Linked DNA regions of Homo sapiens: regions 2, 3 and 4 are each linked to region 1. Evidence: fine-mapped expression QTL. Tissue or cell type: whole blood. Region 1 holds a variant in brackets; each other region holds the start of a gene. Each region is shown on its reference strand, or each on the opposite one.

Evidence for each region. PIP is the estimated chance that this variant, and not a neighbour inherited with it, causes the effect. A credible set is the group of variants that fine-mapping cannot tell apart.
Region 2: it holds the start of MRC2, and the variant in region 1 is fine-mapped to the expression of MRC2 in whole blood (TOPMed, PIP 0.99).
Region 3: it holds the start of CTSE, and the variant in region 1 is the best candidate, but not a certain one, in a credible set for the expression of CTSE in whole blood (TOPMed, PIP 0.60).
Region 4: ESPN starts here. The variant in region 1 is fine-mapped to the expression of ESPN in whole blood (TOPMed, PIP above 0.99).

Annotation. Positions count from the first base shown.
Region 1 is chr2:60,489,571-60,492,251 of GRCh38, forward strand. All of the region lies in intron 2 of BCL11A (BCL11 transcription factor A), which reads right to left. Among named protein-coding and RNA genes, the nearest start is that of BCL11A, 63 kb to the right of the region's middle. The variant T/G (reference allele first, on the strand shown) is at 1,338.
Region 2 is chr17:62,626,430-62,629,110 of GRCh38, forward strand. It overlaps MRC2 (mannose receptor C-type 2), which reads left to right and starts at 1,241. Exons shown (of 30, transcript NM_006039.5): 1 at 1,241-1,491. The coding sequence starts at 1,374. It overlaps LOC107985020 (a long non-coding RNA gene), which reads right to left and starts at 1,621. Exons shown (of 2, transcript XR_001752961.3): 1 at 1,416-1,621; 2 at 8-580. RefSeq lists silencers at 1,161-1,600, 1,801-1,870.
Region 3 is chr1:206,022,879-206,025,559 of GRCh38, forward strand. CTSE (cathepsin E) reads right to left here and starts at 1,017. Exons shown (of 9, transcript NM_001910.4): 1 at 846-1,017; 2 at 23-179. The coding sequence starts at 913.
Region 4 is chr1:6,423,236-6,425,916 of GRCh38, forward strand. ESPN (espin) reads left to right here and starts at 1,541. Exons shown (of 13, transcript NM_031475.3): 1 at 1,541-2,014. The coding sequence starts at 1,721. RefSeq lists enhancers at 256-870, 871-1,484 and silencers at 1,481-1,640, 1,671-1,720.

The sequences.
Region 1 (2,681 bases):
ATTCTGAGTAGAAGAGGAAGCACCTGAAGGAAGCTGAAAAGAAAGTCTGACATTTGAAATTCTAACAGAGGTTCTTTCCCCTCTAGGACACTCTGGGTCACTAGCATCTCTGCTTTCCTTGTTCCCTGGCTCATCTCCTGAGCCCCCGGGCCGTTCTCCTTTCCAACTGTCTATTTACTAACCACTTTTATCAGCCCCCCTCTCACCCCATCCAAAAATGTTTACTCAAGTTCAGGCTAGCTTAATAACCCCCAAAGCAGGAGGACACTATTAAAGAGAGATCACAGGGATATGAATTTTGATGCCTGCCTTATTTTGTCACATATCATCAAAATGATAAATGCTATCATGAAACACCATCCATGCCCTGAGTATCCCAACATGGATGGACTGGAGGAGAGGGACAAGGGACCAATACAGACCCTGATGGGCCCTTGATTCTGAACGTCATTCCTGCCCACTCCCCATCTGCAATGGGGGCAAAGGCAAAAGGAAAGCTTTCCAAGATTTAAACAGTCCTCTATATTAGTAACAGACCCATGTGCTAGGCTCCTACAATATCTGGTTCCATTCTGCTAGTGAAAGGAAACCCTACGGTCAACCAACTCCATCCTCTAGAACATATAAGTCAACAGGGGAGAACTCGGCATGAAGGGTATAACAGAGAATTTCAACAACTCATCCACCCCCTTTGCAGAGTCCTCACTTAACATCCCCTAGCATGCTGCCTTTGTCTTCTGATCAGAGTATTTCAGCAGCCCTCTGTGATCTATAGGATATGGTCCAACTCCTTAAGCCATCATTCCAGAGCTCCACAATCCAACTCCAATTTTCTATTCCAGTCTTAGTTCCCCGTACCCATCAAGGAAAATATTCTGCCCAAGTAAAAATCCCTTCCGTTCTCATTTCCTTCCTGGCTTTTCTTCTTCTTCTCTTACCTCCTGGAATCCTGCTCATACTTCAAGGCCTCAATGAAGGTCTACCTAGTCACCTTAGCAAGAAGAATCAATCTCATCCTTCTCCAACCTCATAGAACACTCATCCCATGCACCACTCCCTGACTCATATCTAGGCCTTACATTGCTGGTTAACCCTCTATGCCTCTAATTAATTTCATGTGTTCCCAATGAGTTTCTTCAATACAGGGACTCTTTCTCCTACTTGCTTCTATTATATTTGAAAGTACCAGCACAGCATGTGACATGATATTCATATATTCTAGGAATTCAACAAATAGCATATAAATGACTGATTTACCTTCCTAAAAGGGAAGTTATTTTTCCAAATATCATTTCTGTTCAAAATGGTAATTTTAACCTTCTTAGCACCCACAAACA[T/G]TTCCCTTCTGATATCTACTTGAACTTTCAGATAAAAAAAAAAAAGCAAGTTGCAGTAACATGTTATGCTACACAAAGATTAGCATGAATATCCACCCTCTTTAAACAGCCACCCCACACCCTGGAGAAGAGCAAATGTGAAGTTTATGTGCCAACCAGACTGTGCGCCAGGTTGGTAAAGTCTGACAGAGTTACCAAAAAATGACAACATCTTCTATATGTGAAGCCCAACTACGTGGTTGTGCAACTCTATAGCTGACTTTCAACCATGGTCATCTGCAAAGAAGTTAGTCTCAGCCACCTGCGCATCCTCAATGCAAAAAGCTAAGTTCTAAAAACGTATTCTTAATGCTGTTTTAAATGCAGCACTACTAAAAAGGACCTCATTTTGATGCCAGAGGGCAGCAAACATGGACACTTTTGGCCCCCTTCAGCTATTAAGTACAGTAAAAGGAAGTCCTAACTATCATTTGAAATGCTCCCGGCCAGGCGCTGTGGCTCACACCTGTAATCCCAGCACTTTGGGAGGCCGGGGCAGGAGGATCACCTGAGGTCAGGAGTTCAAGATCAGTTTGGACAACACAGTGAAACCCCGTCTCTACTAAAAATACAAAATTAGCCGGGCATGGTAATACATGCCTGTAATCTCAGCTACTCGGGAGGCTGAGGCAGGAGATCGCTTGAACCTGGGAGGCAGAAGATGCAGTGAGCCGAGATCGCGCCATTGCATTCCAGCCCGGGCAACAAGAGTAAATCTCCGTCTCACCAAAAAAAGAAAAAAGAAAAAAAAAAAAAAGAAAGAAATGCTCCCCTCAGTTCTCCAGGCTGGGCTGACTGCCCACGTCAAAACACCCTAGGCATCATCACTCCGTGTTGAGAGCCAAGTGGCCAGGTAGGACCCAACACTACGCAGGCACAGACGTTTTCCATGTTAAGAACCCAAATCCATACAGTCCTTAGCACCCAAATAGGTTCAGAAAAGGCAGTCCACACAAATCTGCCAAATAAATGAAGTTCAGATATTGCATTTACGCTAAATACCTTGGAAATTGAGAGGGAATCTGGAGAGGAAGATGGATGTAGGAAAAACAAAAACCCTCACTTTACAGGAATTCAGCACAGGAGATGCTACATTGTTAGCATCTCCGCTTAAGGAGAAGACATACTGATGAATAAGACTGAGTTGGTGACAGGCACAGTGGCTCTCGCCTGTAATCCCAGCACTTTGGGAGGTCAAGGCAGGAGGATCACTGGAGCCCAGGAGTTCAAGACCAGCCTGGGCAACAGGGAGAAACTCCATCTCTACAAAATTAGCCAGGCATGGTGGCATGCACCTGTCGTCCC
Region 2 (2,681 bases), not on the chromosome of region 1:
AATACAATTTATATTACAGTTTTATTATTATTTAAAAATTTTATATTAACAAAATGAGATGGGATCTGCCTATGTTGCCCAGGCTGGTCTTCAACTCCTGGGCTCAATCTCCTCGGCCTCCGAAAGTGTGATTACAGGCGTGAGCCACCGCACCCGGCCCATATTACAGTTTCATAGTGTTTTTGATTACTCGTGGTAGGAGAAATGTGTCTTCTTTGCACTTGGGGTCTCAACGTCTCAGTCCTGCCCTATGCCCCGAGACCCCAAGAGGCTTTCCCAAGGTCAGGCAGGGAATCCGCAGAGAGGCAGGGCTGGACTCCAGCATCCTGACTCCCCAGTTCGTGCTCTGTGCTGCAGAGACCTGTTGCGTAACACTGAGTAACTGTGGATTGTCTAACCTTTTATGAAATTTCCAGCTGGTCTTTTGCTACCGGCCAGCAGTCCAGTTGGTGGGAGTGATGATGCCGGTCTTCTGAGACGTCCAGTGGACAGATTTTCCCCAGGTTTCTGGATGCAGCCCCAACAAGCAAAAGTGCTACACTCCTGCACCGGGAACACTGACACAGGGGTCACGAAAATGCTAAAACAAGACGTGCAAGAATTGTTGCGCTCCGCACACGTAACAAGGGCTCTGCCTCCCCCTCCCCCAATCTTCGCCCTGGTGGCCAGGCCCTGGGCTCCGCCCCTTCCCCACCAGACCGGGGGAGGGGTCCTCCTCGGCATGGAGGTAGGGGATGCTAGGCTGCTGGAGACGCCCGCAGAAAGAGGCGGGATGGCGGGGCGGATGCTGGCGGCCCGGGTCTGGCCACCTGGGTCAGCTGCACGCCCCCGCCCCGGGCTGGCCGGACCTCGTAGCCCAGGTCCCACCACGCCGTGAAGTTTGCGGAAAGTTTTGCAGTTGCTTCCCCGCCCGCGCCAGCGGGGGAGTTGTGACGCAGCGTCTGGGGATCCTGGCCGGGACAGAAGAGAGGGAAGGCGAGGCGGGGAGAGACTGGGAAACAGAGCAGCAAGAGAAAGGGCGCACGCTGGGGTCCTCCTGGACCCGGCGTGTCCTCCTCTCCGCCACCCCTTTCTCTCCCTCCCGACGCTCTAGCCCCAGACCCGCGCCTCCTCCCCTTCCCCTCCCACGCTGCCCACTTCCCTTCCCCTCTACCCCTCGAACCCTCCTCCCCGGTTCTGCGCTCCTCCCTCCGCCCTCCCTCCGCCCGGGCTGCCTCCTCCCTCCTCCTCCCCGGGAGGCATCACTTCGTCCCGACCCGGAGGAGGACGCGAGCCCCTTGCGGGCGGTCATCACAGCCCAGCCTCGGGGCTGCCACAGCGCGTTGCGCCTGTGCGCCCTCGGTCCCCGCGTCCACTGAGCGCCGCGCTCGGGGATGGGGCCCGGCCGGCCGGCCCCCGCGCCCTGGCCTCGTCACCTGCTGCGCTGCGTCCTGCTCCTCGGGTGCCTGCACCTCGGCCGTCCCGGCGCCCCTGGGGACGCCGCCCTCCCGGGTAAGGCGCTGCCAACTTGGCCAACTTCAGGGCCCGGGCGGGGGGAGCGCCGAGGCGCGGGCCGCTCTCGACTTTTCCCTCCTTTTCCCCCCTCTTTTCTCCAGAAGCGTGTGTGCGTGTGTGTGTGACTGGGTTTTTAAAACTCGTCTCCGCTTTTCTGAAAGCGGGGGAGGAGAGGGGAGGAGGAGCGCGCCTAGAGGTGGGGGAGGACCTGAGTGGAACCAGATGTGGCGGGCGGCGGGGGAGGGGAGCCCGGGGGACTCCAGCAGCCTAGGAGGAAGCGGGTGGGCTCTTGAGGACCCCCGCGCACCGCGCTCCCGGACCACCCGGCGCCGGCCCGTCCTCGGCAGGGGACCTGCAGGGCGCGCCCGGGGAGCCAGGGCTCTCTGTCCGGGAGTTCCCGGGCCCAGTCTCCTCGCTCTGCCCCAGGACTGATGCGTTAGGACGGCTTTCCAACTATCCGCGAGGGTTCGTTTCCCCCACCTTCCCCCCGCCCCCTGCATCTCGTGGGCGTTGATATTTTCTTTTCCACACTTAGTCTTCAAGGAGGCTTGTGGCGCGCGGCATCCGCCCCGCGTGAGCTCGGCAGCCCTGTGAGGAGGCTCCTGCCACTGGGACGCAGCAACAGGCTGGGCGCCGCCGTGCTGTGATGTTGCGTAGCGTGGGCAGCTCTGGGCACACTAGTGGCCCTCCAGAGGGGACAGACCTTGAGCGGCAAAAGAGCTGCTAAAGATTTTAAAACCCAACGAACAGGAAACAAAACAAAAATCAGAAAACCCCAAAACTGTGCCATTCTCTTCCTGCTCCTTATTCAGGGGTAACAGTGAAGTGTGGGGACAGACAGATCCCTCGCCAAGAATCTAAGAGTTGAAAGGAAAGATCCACTTCCTGGGGGAGTGGGGGTGGGGGTGTCTGGAGTGACCGGGGGAATCGCCCGGCCCAGCTTGGTCCTGCTGGCTGTTTAATTGGGGGATGGGGACAGTCCGTGCAGTGTCTGCAGTTTTGTGCAAGGACCAGACAGCCCCCTGGAGAGTCTGGGGCCTCCAGCCTGGCCCGTGCTTGCTGGGTTGGCCTGGCGTGACGTAGGCACAAGACACATATCTGCCAGATGGGAAAGGTGGGGGCCACGGTGACCCACATTCACACCAACCGGAGACCCCCGGGGCAATTCTGGGCCCACCTGGCATTGA
Region 3 (2,681 bases), not on the chromosome of region 1:
CCCTGACCCCAGGAGGCCTCACATCCAAGTAGTTGATGAGGGGTTCCTTGGCACTCTGGTCCATTGAGCAGGACTCGGTGAACTGGATCATGTCCAAATTATGGGATTTCCAGAACTCAGAGAGCTGGCTCCGTGCCCGCAGCTTCTTCTTGAGGGACGGATGCCTCCTGAGGGGCACCCTGGAGACAAACCCCCATGTAAGCAGGAGATGTACTTCTGCCTCCCTCTTCCCCCCATTCTCGTCCCATTTTCTCAGGGGCCAACTAGAGAAGATGGGGTGGGAGGGGGGGATCTGCAAGACAGCACGCAGGATACAGGTGGGATCAGCGTCCTCTCTGCCACTCAGCCTGCCCGGCCTCATCTCTGCCCTATAGAGTCTTAGAATCTTAGAGTGGAAATGGCTCCCCTCCTGGAGCTGAGGTCTTTGAGATCTAGGAAAATGGGAGATGTGGGGCGGTCTACAGTTTTACATGAACATCACGAAGGGCTGATTTAAAGGGACAGAAAAACTCTTGGGGACAGTGATGGTCAGTCCCCTGGGGAAGTCCTGGGGCGCTTTGAGCTACAAACCACAACTGCAGGTTCCTGCTCTTTTGCAACACAAGAAGACCCCTGGGACTTGGGAAGGCACCTCCGTGGAGGTGGAGGCAGGAGGATGACTTGTTGAGGACTGGAGATTAAGGCCATACACAGGCGGTCACTGGATGAGTCTCTTCCATGCATTGACGCAAGCCCTCAGCTTCTCCTCCTCTTCACCTCCCCATCAGCTTTCCTACCCCAGAGCAGCCCTGAGTTGCAGGGCATGGGACTACCCAGCTGAACACAGTGCGGGGACGTCTTCTCACCTGTGAAGGGATCCTTGGGCCTCTCCCAGCTCCAGGAGCACCAGCAGCAAAAGAAGGAGCGTTTTCATTGTGAGTCCGACCAGCAGCTTCTCCCTTGCCCCCTCCTTTCTTCTCTCCCCGAGGGCAGTGGGAACGGACTTTCCCTAACTCTCAGACCTGCCCAGCCCAGTCTGAGGGCCGAATGATAAGGCCCTGGAGTCATTAGCCATGCCCAGAGTAAATACGGCATGTGGAACAGGGCGTTCCCCCTGCACCTCTCCGTCCCTTTCCCACCTACAAGAGGAATATGAGTCTGCGGGGAGAACTTGGGAGTCCTCTGGGGCTTGGCTTCTCTCAGGGCTTTGGCACCTCCTCTGACCCCAAGAAACCCTGTTAATGAATCCGGAGGGCAGCACATGCCTGGCTGCCTGGAAAGGCCCACTGAACTCTTACTGCAAGTGCTCTAGCTGGAGACTCTGGAGGGGTGGGAGCTGACTTGTCATGGGTGGCAGGATTCTAACTCAAAATATTCGTCAGTCTGTTTTCTGGGTGATTCCTGTTCTCTCCTCAATCTCTCAAATGCTCCAAAGGCAGTTTATCCTTCCCTGGCCCACTTTGAAGCACAAACCAGCACTCCTCAAAGGCCCTGAAATGGGAAAATGTAGCTGCAGATTTATGGAGCCCACTCTCCTGACTCTAAGGACTTGATGAATCTGGGGCTGGGGCTCAGGGGTGTGTGGAGGAGAATGCAGGGGCAGCGAGGGAGGGTCAAGGGGGTCAGCGTCTACAGCAAGTGCCCGCATGAGTCTACTAAAGCGGCCATGACAAAGTACAGGGGGCTTAAACAACAGAAATTTATTTTCTCACTATTCTGGAGGCTGGAAGTCCAAGATCAAGGTGTTGGCAGACTTGGTTGCTTCGGAGGCCTCTCTCCTTGGCTTGCAGATGGCTGCCTTCTCTCTGTGTCTTCACATGGGTCTTCCCTCAGCGTGTGGCTGTGTCCACATCCACATTTCCTCTTCTTATAAGGACGCTAGTCATATTGGAGTAGGGCCCACCCTAATGACTGCGTTTACCCTTAATACCTCTTTAAAGACCCTATCTCCAAATACAGTCACGTTCTGAGGTACTAGGTGTTAGGACATCAACATGGATTTTGGAGGACAAAGTTCAGCCCTTAACAGTGCTCAGGGACAATAGGATCTTCTATCTGTCAAGTGGGACTAAGCGCAGGGGTGGAGAGTGGGTGGGGCTCAGGCCTTAGTTACCGCAGTGTGTGAAACCCCCTCACCATCAGCCTATCTCTGTGGCCACCCGCCTCATAAACAGATGGTGGGGCTTCAGTGCCTGGGGTGGGGATGAAGGGGTTACAGGTAGGAAGACCCTGACCCTGACTCAAGTTAGCCAGGGCAGCAGAGGCCACCACCATATGCCAATGCTTCCAGAGGGCACTAGCTCAGCAGTAGGAAGTAGATGGCCTGCGTTTAGGTTTAGCTCTGCCCTGACCAGCTAGTGTTCTGGAAAATCTCTTAAGTGCTATGGGATCTGCCTTTCATCTCTGAAGTTCAAATGGCAAGCAAACGTGGAGTATGGAGCTAAGCCAAACCCACCCTTGGGTCCAAAAATGTTAAAAAAAGACATCAAAAAGACTTAAGGAACAGCCTAGACCTTTGACCCCTGAACCCAAGGCAACAAAGCCTCTTTGGCATTTCCCAGGAGCCCGTCTTGTTGATCTTTCACTGGGGAGAGTGGTCTAAACCTAGAAGGGCAGCTTGAGTCAGAAGTGGCTAGAAGTGGAGATCATTCATTTTGGCAGTAAACTCTGCCATGTTTTGCCCGTAACTGCTTATTCACCAC
Region 4 (2,681 bases), not on the chromosome of region 1:
CAGGGCCTTTTGGAATGGAGGAGGCCCAGGGGAGGGGTGCCCAAGACAAGCCATTTTAGCACCTCCTCCCAACAGTACCCCTGCCACTTGCTGGCCTCACGGCACACCTGCCTCTGGGCACCCAGAGGAGGGCAGCGCCAGCCGCAGTGAGCCTGTTGCTTTGGCCACCAGCTCCAGCAGCGAGGCTGCGAGGAAATGACTCCTCCTTCCTTTTGTCTGCAAACCACTGGGCAAGCGTCCCAGATTCCAGCGGCCACAGGTCCCATGGAGAGAGTGAGGGCGATCTGGCCTGGTGGAAGTCGTTGGAAACCCACCTGGCTAGGCACAGCCCAGCAGCTCCAGTTACCTGGGCACCTGGGAGCGCGGGAGGCCATCACGCAGGTCGCCACTAGGTGGCAGGCCCAGGGAAAGGACCGGAGGCAGCTGCCGAGTTTAGCACTATGAGTTTAGCACTATGACTCCCACTGTTCCTGGAAGGGGCTTCCTTCATTCTACAGCATTTCCAGTGCTGACTGTGCCAGGCTGGGGCTGGGGCGGAGTGAAACCTTCAGCCCGGGGTGGGGCCAAGCCCCCACGGGACTCCAGAGGGGGTGGGTGTTGGGACAGGAAGGGCACAGGGTGCTTCAAGATCGCTGATAGGCCGCCTGCACTCCCACAGCCATGTAGCTCCCACCTTCTGTCAGCTTTTCCTCGCGTCCTTTGGGCACTAGCCGCTCCCACGGCTGGTGTTCAGTGGAGCCTGCAGGGTGGCTTGGCACACATTCGCTCTCCTGCCCGCGCCCTCTGGCACTTTCCTGAGCCCCTGCAGGGGTCTCAGCCCCCTCTCTCTGGATGCCGGCGCTCCCGCGTCTCCCCACAAGCCCTAACCTCCCACCCATCCCTGCCTTCTGTGTGGCTGGAAGCCCCTCCACACCGACAGCGGCTGCGGGCGGCCTGAGGCCATGGCGTTCCCAGCGCACTAGTGGTTCCCGTCCTGCCTTCCTGCCCTCCCCGCTGGAACCTCTGGGGGCAGTTCTCGGATCTGGAGGGACCCTGGAAGGCAGGGCTCTTTGCAATCTCCGGGGATTTCGACCCAGAGCCCTTCAGGGACGTGGCAGGGCTGCTCCTGCCTCAGGGCCGTTGTCCTCGTGCTCCTCACCCCGCCTGGAATACCCTTCTCGCCGCTCAAACCCAGCCCCACGGCACCTCCTCAGAGACCTTTCCCTGTCCGCCCACGCGGTCCCGACAATCACTCCCCATCACCTCTGGAATTGCGTCGCCGGCGCCTGGAACCGCAGTTAGCGGGCACTGGGCAGATGAATGAATTTGTCTGTGCCTGGACGGCTCTCCAATTCGAACCCAGTTTTGCTGCCCTCTGGGGTCTCAACTGTTACGTGAGGCAAATTAGGAGAGAAGCCCCTGGGCACCTTGCCCCAGTCGCACGAGTGTCCCCGCGTCGCGGCGGGGGCGGGCGGGGAACTCGGGCGGAGGCTGCGGGGCGGGGCGGGGCGGGGTGGGGGCGGGCCCGAGTCTTAAGCCGGCGTCCGCGGGCTCCGGCCCCAGAGCGCGGCGGAGCGGAGCGCCAGGCAGCGCGGAGCGGAGGCCAGGCCCACAGCCGCTCCGCCTCCCGGCCCGCAGATCCCCGACGGCCGCACCGCGGGCTCCTCTGGCCCGCAAGAACACGTGCATGGCGTCCTGGGGAAGGCGCTGAGTGCGGAGTCGCGGCGCCGCACGCGGCACCATGGCCCTGGAGCAGGCGCTGCAGGCGGCGCGGCAGGGCGAGCTGGACGTGCTGAGGTCGCTGCACGCCGCAGGCCTCCTGGGGCCCTCGCTGCGCGACCCGCTGGACGCGCTGCCCGTGCACCACGCGGCCCGCGCTGGGAAGCTGCACTGTCTGCGCTTCCTGGTGGAGGAAGCCGCCCTCCCCGCCGCGGCCCGCGCCCGCAACGGCGCCACACCGGCCCACGACGCCTCCGCCACCGGCCACCTCGCCTGCCTGCAGTGGCTGCTGTCGCAGGGCGGCTGCAGAGTGCAGGTGGGTCCGCGCGGTTCGCCAGGGGCACTGAGGCTTCCTCCTCAGGACAGAGTCCTGGCCCAGAGTCCCCCGGGGCTCAAGGATGGGTGGGGTTTGGCACCTCCTGGCCCAGCTGAACCCTGCACGGAGCTCCTTCCAGAGGCCCTCAAGTGAATGGGCTCCCTGGCTTGCCAGTACTGGGGCAGATGCCCTGGCGAGCCTGGGTGCTCCCTGGAAGCGCACCTGGGTGATGGGAGCCAGAAGGGAGGGGCCTCCGTGGGGCTTGTGGTTACTAGTGTGTACCGGGAGAAGCAAAGCACTGATCCTGTAGTCCTGGAAGTGGGTGGGACGTGAGGCCTGGGCAGCAGAGTCAGACGCCCGTGTCCTCCAGGACCGGATCTGAAAGGAGGCTGGGCAAAGTCCCACAGCCCACCCGAGGCTGAGATTCAGGTGTCCCAGCCAGGGTGTGGGGGAAGGGTGATGAGCCGTGGTAAATGGGGGTCTCCCCATAACCCAGGCTGACCCCAGGACATCAGTGCTGTCAAGCTGTCAGCTGCTTCTCCAACCCAGGCTGATTCTTGCTGCCTCCAGACCCCACCTGGTCACTCTGAGCAGTGACCTCCAAGGGGAGTCCTGGCTGCTGAGAAGCAGGTAGCCAGGCAGCGGTGGGACAGTTCCAGGCACAGGG